Regions from separate parts of the Homo sapiens genome. Here region 1 is linked to region 2. Evidence: fine-mapped expression QTL. A gene starts in region 2. The other region holds a variant in brackets. All regions are shown on one strand. Distances are from middle to middle.

Region 1 (5,379 bases), 360 kb after region 2:
GCTCACACCTGTAATTCCAGCACTTTGAGAGTCTGAAGCAGAGGCTTGCTTGAGCCCAGGAGTTCAAGACTAGCCTGGGCAAGAAAGTGAGACCCATCTCTACAAAAAAGTTAGAAATTAGCTGGGTGTAGTGGTGCGCACCTGTAGTCCCAGCTACTCGGGAGTCTGAGGCAGGAGGATTGCTTGAGCCTGGGAGTTCCAGGGTGCAATGAGCTATAATTGCATCATTGCACTCTTGTCTGGGTGACAGAGTGAGACCCTGTCTGAAAACACACACACACACACACACACACACACACACACACACATCCCCACAACAACAACACAAAAAACTGCTGCTTGGGTCCCAACATAGACCAGTTATAGACCAATTGAATTAGAACCACCAGTGCTGGGACATAAACGTTATTTTTTAAAAACTCCCCAGTTGATTCTAATGTGCAGCTAGAGTTGACCATTGCAGATAAAGCGCTACATCAGAACGAGTTTCTAGGTACAATTGAACCCTTCTTCTCGTTGCCAACTGTGGGATAAAATTAGGAAAGGGAAACACTTCTGCTTTCCCCCTTCATGTTTCAAGAATCCCTCTTAAGGTAATTCATTAGAATTTAGAATTTGAACTTGGTGAGTGTTTCTTCTTTGCCCTGTTCGTCTGGCTGATGAACTTGGTGAATTTTAAAGCAAATAATAAGCCGGTTGTGGTGACATGTGCCTGTAGTCCCAGCTACTTGGGAGGCTGAGGCAGGTGGATTGCTTGAGCCCAGGAGTTTGAGGCTACAGTGAGCTATAATTGTGCCACTGCACTACAGCCTGGGTGACAGAATAAGATTCTGTCTCTAAAAAAAAAAAAAATAATAAAAGAAGATAATAATGAGCACTAGGAACTCTGAGCACAAGGACTTCTTTAAGTATTCTATTATGATGTGATTTGGTGGAGTGAGGCATTACAGTTCCAGTTTCCTAGGCTTTACAAATGGGACCTATCAAAAGAGGGATGCAGAGAATAAGGAATGAACACTTGGATTCAGGGGAAACCCAAGAAAAAAAAATTTATTGGTTAGGGGAAGTCTGATGACAGTGAGCCAGGAAAGAAAACTCAGGTACTTGAGTACTCAGGTGCTTCAAGGTTATTCAGAAAAAAAAAAGAGAGAGAGAAAACAGAAAAAAGAATAAAAAGCCTTTTTATGTTTTTCTATCTTTTTTTCTCTCTTTCCTCTCTGCTTTCTGAATGCTGAAGGAAAGTATTATGGTCACTGGTAAAAACAAACATTCTGACATATGCACACGTATGTTTATTGCAGCACTATTTACAATAGCAAAGACTTGGAACCAACCCAAATGCTCATCAATGATAGACTGGATAAAGAAAATATGGCACGTATACACCATGGAATACTATGCAGCCATAAAAAGAATGAGTTCATGTCCTTTGCAGGGACATAGATGAAGCTGGAGTCCATCATTCTCAGCAAACTAACACAGGAACAGAAAACCAACCACCACATGTTCTCACTCATAAGTGGGAGCTGAACAATGAGAACACATGGACACAGGGAGGGGAACATCACACACTGAGGCCTTTTGGGGGGACAAAGGGAGGGAGAGCACTAGAACAAACACCTAATGCATGTGGGGCTTAAAACTTAGATGATAAGTTGATAGGTGCAGCAAACCACCATGGCACATGTATATCTATATAACAAACCTGCATATTTTGCACATGTATCCCAGAACTTTCTGCACATGTATCCCCGAACTTAAAGTAAAAAAAAAAAAAAAAAAAAAGACAAACACTCTGAAATCAGAAGGACAGGCTTACCTCCCAGCCAGGCTTCTAAATTGCCGTCACCCACTTTGCTTTATTTCTATGAGTCCCACCTTCTTTTCTTATAAAAAGGATAGAAAGAAGATTAGTGTATCTGTTACTCAATATTGCTGTGAGGTTTCAGTATCTTTGGGCTTAGCAATTTAAAGAATTTTAAGCGGTTGTGGCACAAAAGTTTTTTTCCTCATATAGTATCTGTGCAATCATGCCTCCAAATTCTGTAATATTTAATTCTTCTTGGAAAAAAAAACAACAACAAACCAAACCCCCAAAACAAAAACCTTATTCTCTGAGGTTAAAATCTATAGTATATCTAGTTTCATGTAATAATCTGGCTTGGAAAACAATCAGCCAAGCTTCCTAATCTCCCTTTCCATTATCTCCTTTCCTTAGGGCCTATGGCTTGGTCCTGGTGGTCCCTAGAGGCGTGTGCCAGTTATGGAGGTGGAGAGAAGGTACTCCAGAGGAAGGAGCTTGAGAAAGGAAGCCTGTTGAGCTGATCATAATTCAGTTCCCTGATGATGGCCTGGACAGTAAGCAGATATAGAACATTTTTAGAATTTTTGTCTCTTTCATTTGATTTATAGCCCAATTCCACATATTTTGCTCTCAATCTTTCTACTCCTTGCCCCAGTTCTGAAGGGGGTCAACAAAAAAGATGCCATTTTTGTGACCTTGAGAATCAGATCCTGTTTCTCCTTTCTTTAACCTGGCAGACGATGAAGGGATAAATTCTCAGGTAGGATGGGGGTCATTTGCACGCTGTAGGAAGGTTTCCAGGTGGTAGGAAGAGGGTTGCCAGCTTAGATGGATGTAACCAGATTTGATCTACCAAGAATGATGGTGATTAACTGACTTCTCTTTAATTTTTTAAAAAACAGGATATTGCTGCCCAGATATGTTACACTTGTGGTATTTTGGGGTATTCTCCCTGATATTGGTGCCAGCATGAGCCATAGAATCACATTCTCCAATAGTAGCTAAGCCTCCTTCCTGCCTCTGATTGGACTTTCTGGGCTCTGTAATCCTGTTGATGGCCTGAAAATGTACTAAATATGCAGCCAGGGCAAAGAAATTGCAAAACGTGCTTTACCTAAAAATAATTATGTTTTTTCCCCTCAAAGGTCCAGA[G/T]AAAATGTTATTTAAGTCAATGAATACAGCCATCATTTTCATGGGGCCTCTCTTAATTTCCTTCTTTCTTTTTTTTTTTAATTTCTTGAAATAGTTAGTTCCTTATCTGTCTTTCACTTCCCATTAGAAAGTGCTGACATTCTGATTTTCTGTAATCTTATTACTCTATGTGACTTCTATAGAGCTCTTTCTTATTTTTTCTTCCTGTTATTTTTACTTTTGAACATTTACAGGGTGTTAGCTGTCAATGACAATGAACCCCAACTATGGTCTTTAATCTTTTCACGGTGGGGCTCCAAGATCTTTATAACTACCAGCAAAGAGCTCTGTGATTTGCCAAAATTCAATCATAAGGAAGAGTAACCCCCTCCACACTGTTTTTATTATGGTCTTTTCCCTCCTTGCTCTACTACATTTGTGGGCATAAAGCTTTGGGGGAATGAAAAGTGGCTGCTTGTCACCAAAACTTGGGGACTCCTGCTTTCTAGAGAAATCTCAAGAGATAGTGCCATTCTCATAAAACTTTCTGTCTTTTCAAAATCCTCCTTATAGTTTAAGAGTAAAAATTTCTAAGCTATATGTTACCTTTTTATTCTTTTTTCCATTTCATTCTAAAATATCAGGATTTACATTTCAAATACTACTGTCAATGAGGTTATCATATGTAGCTCTAATTTATCCGCTTTCTTGGCCAACTCCAAAAGAACAGGCTCAGCAGCGAGGTCTTGATACCTCTTTTTCCCCCAGCGTCACAATCTTCCCTAGCTCCTGGGCAAAGTGATTATCAAAAGTAGATGCATTGGAGGGTGTGTGTGCAACTCTGCTTCTCTGTTGTTACCCAGACCCAGGAATCTAATAATAACAATTTGTGATGGTTAGTTTTATGTGTCAGCTTGACTGGGCCATAAGGTGCACAGATATTTGATCAAACATTATTCTAAGTGTGTCTGTGAGGATGTTTCTTGAGGAGATTAACATTTAAATCAGTAGTCTGAATAAAGCAGATGGCCCTCTCTAAACTTGGGTGGGTCTCATCCCATCAGTTAAAGGCCTGAATAGAACAAAAATACTGCCCTTTCAATGAGTCAAAGGGAACTCTTTCAATTCAAAGGCCGACTGTCTTTGAATTGGGAATAGGTTTTTGTTTTTGTTTCTGTTTTCCTGCTTCTGGATTCAAACTGAAACATCAGCTCTTCATGTGTCTTCAGCCTGCTGGTCTTCAGACAGAAATTACACCATTGGCTCTCCTGATTCTCAGGCCTTTGGACTCTAAGATTAGAATCATACCATTGGCTTTCCTGGGTCTGCAGTTTGTCAACTGCAGGTCTTGGAAATTTTCAGCCTCCAAAAGTGTATGAGCCAATTCTGTATAATAAATCTGTCTCTCTCTTACTCCCTCTCTCTCGATTCTGTTTCCCCAAAGAACCCTGACTAATACATGGATATAATAATTTTACACTTGAACATCACAAAATCTCTTGATGTTGAAAGGGAGATCTTGATTCCCATGTTTTCATAATAAGCACTTTGGGAGACCATGAATCTTCATGTGTAGATCTTTTTGGATCACTTGGTCTAGTGTATAGACTTGGACCTGAGACCCAGTTTCTAATCCCATTTCTGTTACCAAGTGGCTGTGTGATTAGGGACAAATTACTTCTCCTCTCTGTGCTCCATTTTCTCATCCCTATGAGAAGGATCACAGGGGATTATCCCCAGTGTTTTTTTTGTACTTCTAAAATCCTAGGGATTTAAATTTTTTAAGTAGGAATGGGATCATGTCCTTTGCAGGGACATGGATGGATCTGGAAGCCATTATCCTCAGGAACAGAACACAGGAACAGAAAACCAAATGCTGCATGTTCTCACTTGTAAGTGGGAGCTGAACAATGAGAACACATGGACACAGGGAGAGGAACAACACACACTGGGGCCTGTTGGTGGGGCAGGGGAGGGAGAGCATCAGGAGAAATAGCTAATGCAGGTGGAGCTTAATACCTAGGTGATGGGTTGACAGGTGCAGCAAACCACCATGGCACACAACACTACCTCTTCTTACCTTCTCCATTTCTCTAAGATATGGGAGGTAGGTCTACTTTGCCAAATCAAAACATTGGCAATGATCTGTCAAATATAAGCTCTGAAGATACCTTTTCTGAGAATCTAGGTTCCCAGAGGGGAAATATTTTTTTCTCCTGAGCATTCTGCTTTCTCTATTCACAGACAGATTTTCAGCTAATAGCTCTTCTTTTTCCCCAGGAGATCTGAGCAGAATATTTTCAGAACGTAGACACAGACATACTTTCTTGGGCACGGACTTACATACACAAATAAGCACACTGACACATAGAAAGACACCTACACCAAGCTGCTCACTCAGAGACCACTCAGAATCCAAGAGATTAAACTTGTGCATGCTATTA
Region 2 (5,379 bases):
CAAAACCAAAAGACATAATCATCCTCAAAGACAATGGTTAAAAACACCTCTTTGGAAAATAAAGAGTTAAATATTTGTGAAAACACACCCAATAGTGCCCACTACTCCACTCCTTTCACCCAGTCACATACTCTATAATCTTAGTGAGACCTCTGAGTCTGAAAAATAAGCTGCTGCTTCTACCAAATAAAGCTAACGTTTATCATAAGGCAACATCTACAAATAATTCTTTATTACATTCAAACAGGAGACAGCAATCTAAATTATACAAAATGTCTAACCCAAAAAATCATGAATTAAGCTTTTTGTACTTACTTGAGTAGGGCTGCATCTGGTTTCTGGGAAATTCACCACACAAAAAGCAAAATAACGGAGACAATCTTTGAAGGTCAGACTCAACAAGAGTTAAAAGCTATTGAGCGTCTCTATTTTGCCCCTCCCCCAAAGGTCCTCCCCCTCAATTCGGCTCTCAAAGGATAGCACCACCATGTGAAATGTCCTCCTCCCCATCTGAATCTGCTGAAATCCTACTCATCCTTAAAGGTTTCACTTAAATGCCGAGGCTTCCATGCATTCCTCCCTCAATTTAGAATTAATCTCTCTTCTTCGCTCTCCTATTCTATACCTCAACATTTTACTATATAGTTCACTGTATTACACTTACCTACATTCACTAACCCCCCGCACCGCACCCCCAAAAAAACCACCCCGAGGAGGAAAGGAATTTAAGGTGCTGTTAAACACCTCTATGCCAGGCAAGGTGCTACGCATTTTGCATACATTATCTCATTTAATCTACATGAAAAACATCTGGGGAGGTAAACAGGTGGTGTTATTCCCATTTTACTGATAGGGAACGTACTGCAGAGTTCAATAGCTTATCCAACTCACATTGCAAGCCAATTCCAGGGCGTACGGTTTCCCCCACTCCGAAGAGCTCTTTCCACCACCCCATGCTTGTTCACCTGGTGTCACCCAGCCTAACTGACAGAGTAGGTATTCCATAAATGTTTGCTGAATTTAATATCCCCATGGACTGACTCTTTAATAATCCGATCACGCCTCATCCCTAACCCGTTACCTTTACTGTTCCTTAACGGTGGACTTTACCTACATAAGCAGCTCTCCACATTTCCCTGAGAAATGCTGCAGACAACATCAACCCTTATTGGAAGATTGAGTGAAGAACTTTTCCATTCTCCCGGATTTCCCCAACGGATCTTCCCAAAGAATTTAAGAAATGCACACACGCAAGACACATGTAACACTTACACCCTCCCTCAAGGCTCTTATTTCATATTAAACCATGTCTTCGAGCTTGTAAGCAATAAGGTTTATGCGGTTTCCAGCTCACACAGTGGGGACACCCTAAGTCACTGCCTTAAGAAAACCACATCTTTCAACCTGTCTTAACACGAAGGCATCCTAATACTATCACACTGCCCCCTCCCTCCGTCCACCCCCCCCCCCCCCCCATGAATTGCAGTTTGGATTTCCGGCGGGAATGTATAATACAGACCGCAAGAGGAGACGCGGTTAAAAAGCAATGAAGCAATTACTTATCCTGTTTAATTAGAAAGAAGACACAGAAGGAGCCCCGCCTTTCAAAATCTCTGCACTGAACTCATCTATGAAAGATGGGGGCATCGAAACCCAAGCAACCCGACATCCAGTAGCTGGTTTCTGCAGCTGGGCGGGGGAAAGTCCTTTCCTCCCTGCGGTCCCGGGCCACCAGCCCCCGGTGCTGGGTCGGAGAAGCCTAACCGCACCCTCCCAGGCGGCCCCTTATCTCATTGTCTCCCTCCGTCGCGGTCCCCAGGGGCGCAGGGTGCAGTCCAGGCCCCACCGACCTCCATCCACCAGCCGGGAGCGGTCCAGCCAGCCCCGGCCCGATCCCCAACCTGGCAACGACCCCGCCCCAGGCTGCCGCCGACCGTACCGCACCCGGATGGCGGGGCCGGGCGCCGGGAAAATGGAGGCGGGAGCGGCAGGAGCGCCTCACGGCCCCGCGCCCAGCCGGCTCCCTACCCCCTGGCCCCGAGGGCGAGGCTAACCACTCACCGCGGCAGTCGGTCGGCCTTCCCGCGGCCCCGGGCAAGGAAACCGCCGCTCGCGCTCCTCCAGCCGCTGCCTCCGCCTCCTCCCCAGGCGCGGCGCTCCCTCGCCAGAGACGCAGCGACTGCCAGCAGCTCCCGCGCCGCGCGCTCAGTGACTGACTGACTGACTGACTGACTGACTGACTGACTGACTGGCGGGCGGCGGCGGGAGCGGGGGCGGGGCGGCCGCAGCGCCCCGCGGCGGCGGCGGCGGCGGCGGAGCCGAGTGTGCTCGCGTCCAGCCGAGACGCAGAAGGCGGGGTTGAGGGCCGGACTGCCGACTGTAGGGCCGACTCGCGCGGGACCGCGCGCCGCCCCCGCCCGCCGCCAACCACTCACTTCCGGCGCAGGCCGCCGCGCCCGCCGCCCTTCCCTAGCCCGCGCCCCGCGCCGGCCCTCCGCCCTCCCTTCAGGCGCCCGGCCGCGCCCGGCCGCACTCAACCGCGGCTCCGCTCGTGCCTCGCCTTTCCTCCGCAAGTCCCTGTGAGCCGCCTACAGGAACGAGTGAATCAGAGAATGAATGAGTGGGGAGGAAAATCCCAGTGCTGCCCCACCCCCTGCTCGCCTTTCATAGGAAGCCGGCCCAGCAGCCTCTGTCCTAGCGCCCTGGGAGGCACAGCAGCCTCCAGCAGTTCTGTCAGGGAGCTGTACGCATCCACCTTTATACGCTGTCCGTGTATTCAGAGACTCCAGAAACGCATCCGGGGTTGGCTCGGTCACTTACAGGACCATTGTCGTTGAGATCTGTGAGGCCCTTCTTTAGGAAATCCCATTTTGGCCAAAAAGTCTCTGCAGTTTCATGGAATGTATTGGGAAACTTAGGAACGGGACATTTCGATGACCTTTACTTTTTAAACTTCGAAATCTGTTAATCCTGCCTCCTTAATTTCTGTCCCCCCACCCCATCGGAATTGTGTAGTAGTAAGGTGTCGGCATTTTTCCTTATCGCTAAGCTCAGCTGCTGCCTCTTTAGATGCAGGCTTGACTTCGGCAGACTTTTAGATTTTAAGTATGTCCTTATTTTGACCTTCACCTAAAGTTGATCAAAGAAAGGAACAAATGGAACTAAGTTATGTTTGCTTGGCTACATGCAAAGCAAGTTTGTTGACAGCATTAAAACAATTGAGAAATTGGGAGTGTGACCTGAAATTGGTTGCAATGAACATTGCTTTTTCATGTCTTCCCATCTGCTTGCTAAGAATTTATTTAAATTTTCACAAAGCATTGACTGTACATTCCTGAAATCCTAGCTCCCTCTCTAAGAATGAGAGTGTTCATTTCTCTGTCCTGGGGCCAAATCCTGGTTTGGTTAATTACATTCTTACTTCCTGATATTCTTGAGGACTTTCAAGTGGTTTCAGTCTTTTTTGTACAATCTGTTCCAAACTGGTACACAATCTGTTTCAAATTGGTATTTAGAACCATACAATACAGATACTGGCTGCCTTTCACACTTGAGATATCTGTACTTTTGAAACATAACTGCCCTTTTGTATTTTAAGTTCAGTAGGTATGTCAATATTCTTGTATAGAATAATACTATCTCTTGACTGGATTAAGAAAATGTGGCACATATACACCACGGAATACTATGCAGCCATAAAAAAGGTTGAGTTAATGTCCTTTGTAGGGACATGGATGAAGCTGGAAACCATCATTCTCAGCAAACTATCGCAAGGACAGAAAACCAAACACCACATGATCTCACTCATAGGTGGGACTTGAACAATGAGAACACTTGGACACAAAGCAGGGAATATATCACACAGGGGCCTGTTGGGGGGATGGAGAGGGGGGAGGGATAGCATTAGGAGATATACCTAATGTAAATGATGAGTTAATGGGTGCAGCACACCAACATGGCACATGTATACATATGTAACAAAGCTGCACGTTGTGCACATGTACCCTAGAACTTAAAGTATAATAAAAAATAAAAATAATAAAAGAATAATACTATCTCTTATAAATGAAGATGATCCTGCTGACCAACTTCTTTTAGACTTCTCTTCCTTTCTTGTGGGAATCATCATTTGCCACCTAATTATTTCAAGAAGTTATCCTCCAAAAGTGAATATAATACAACACTTTATTCATCCTTGTATCTCCCACAATATCTAGCATAGTATCTTGCACAATAAGTATTTATAAATTAATAAATGCTTTAAAATTTTTCATAAGTGATAATTTTATACAAATGTATCTAGTCTTTCACCTCATTTCCCTTGTGACCAAGTTTGTTGACATTAGACACACCTGGGTGCCAAACTTAATGAATCCTATTGTCATTAAATGTACTAGGCTGTGTGATACCTTACAAGGAAGATGATTCATTTAAACCTCCTTAAAAAAATAGACGATTGAAGCCAGGAGTGGTGGCTCGCACCTGTAATCCCAGCACTTTGGGAGGCTGAGGTGGGCGGATCACCTGAGGTCAGGAGTTGGAGACTAGCCTGGCCAACATGGTGAAATCCCATCTCTACTAAAAATACAAAAATGAGCTGAGCATGGTGGCGGGTGCCTGTAATCCCAGCTACTCAGGAGGCTGAGGCAGGAGAATCACTTGAACTTGGGAGTGGAGCTTGCAGTGAGCCAAGATCCTGCCATTGCACTCCAACCTGGGTGACAAGAGTGAGACTCCATCTCAGAAAAAAAAAAAAAATAGACCATTGAGTGCCTTTTACATAGGTCTTAGCCAACTCTTCTCCAAGTGCTTAGCCTAAGATCAAGGTTAATTAAAAGAGAAAAAAGGTCACTTTCAGTCATTGAGAAAAGAGTGTTCTCATCAGTTTCTTTAAACCATTAAATCATTCGTTCATTCAATCAGAGTTTATTAAGCTACAATTAAGGCCCAGGAATACAAAGACAAGAAAGACGTGGCATGATGCTTCCTGCCTACAAAAAGCATACAGTCTAGTGGGTAAAGCAGGTAAGGAAGTCATTGTTAGACTGGAAGTCCATTACCAGATCAGGAAAGCCTTCCTGATGGGGAGATTCTTGAACTGAATGTTAAATGATAGGGAGGAGCTAACCAGAAGAAGGAGGGAACAAGCATTCCAAACGAAGAAAACAATATCTCTGCAGGTGTGTGGAAGCACCAAGCATCACCATGCTTTAGAGGCACCGTAAGTGTATTAGTCCGTTTTCATGCTGCTGATAAACACATACCTGAGACTGGGAAGAAAAAGAGGTTTAATGGACTTACAGTTCCACATGGCTGGGGAGGACTCACAATCATGGCAGAAGGTGATGAGGAGCAAGTCACATCTTACATGGATGGCAG

The links. PIP is the estimated chance that this variant, and not a neighbour inherited with it, causes the effect.
Region 1: its variant is the best candidate, but not a certain one, in a credible set for the expression of RAPH1 in whole blood (INTERVAL, PIP 0.88).

Annotation. Positions count from the first base shown.
Region 1 is chr2:203,894,648-203,900,026 of GRCh38, forward strand. No RefSeq gene overlaps it. Among named protein-coding and RNA genes, the nearest start is that of CTLA4, 30 kb to the left of the region's middle. The variant G/T (reference allele first, on the strand shown) is at 2,957.
Region 2 is chr2:203,533,050-203,538,428 of GRCh38, forward strand. It overlaps RAPH1 (Ras association (RalGDS/AF-6) and pleckstrin homology domains 1), which reads right to left and starts at 2,252. Exons shown (of 14, transcript NM_213589.3): 1 at 2,062-2,252. RefSeq lists silencers at 2,021-2,120, 2,191-2,280, 2,331-2,400.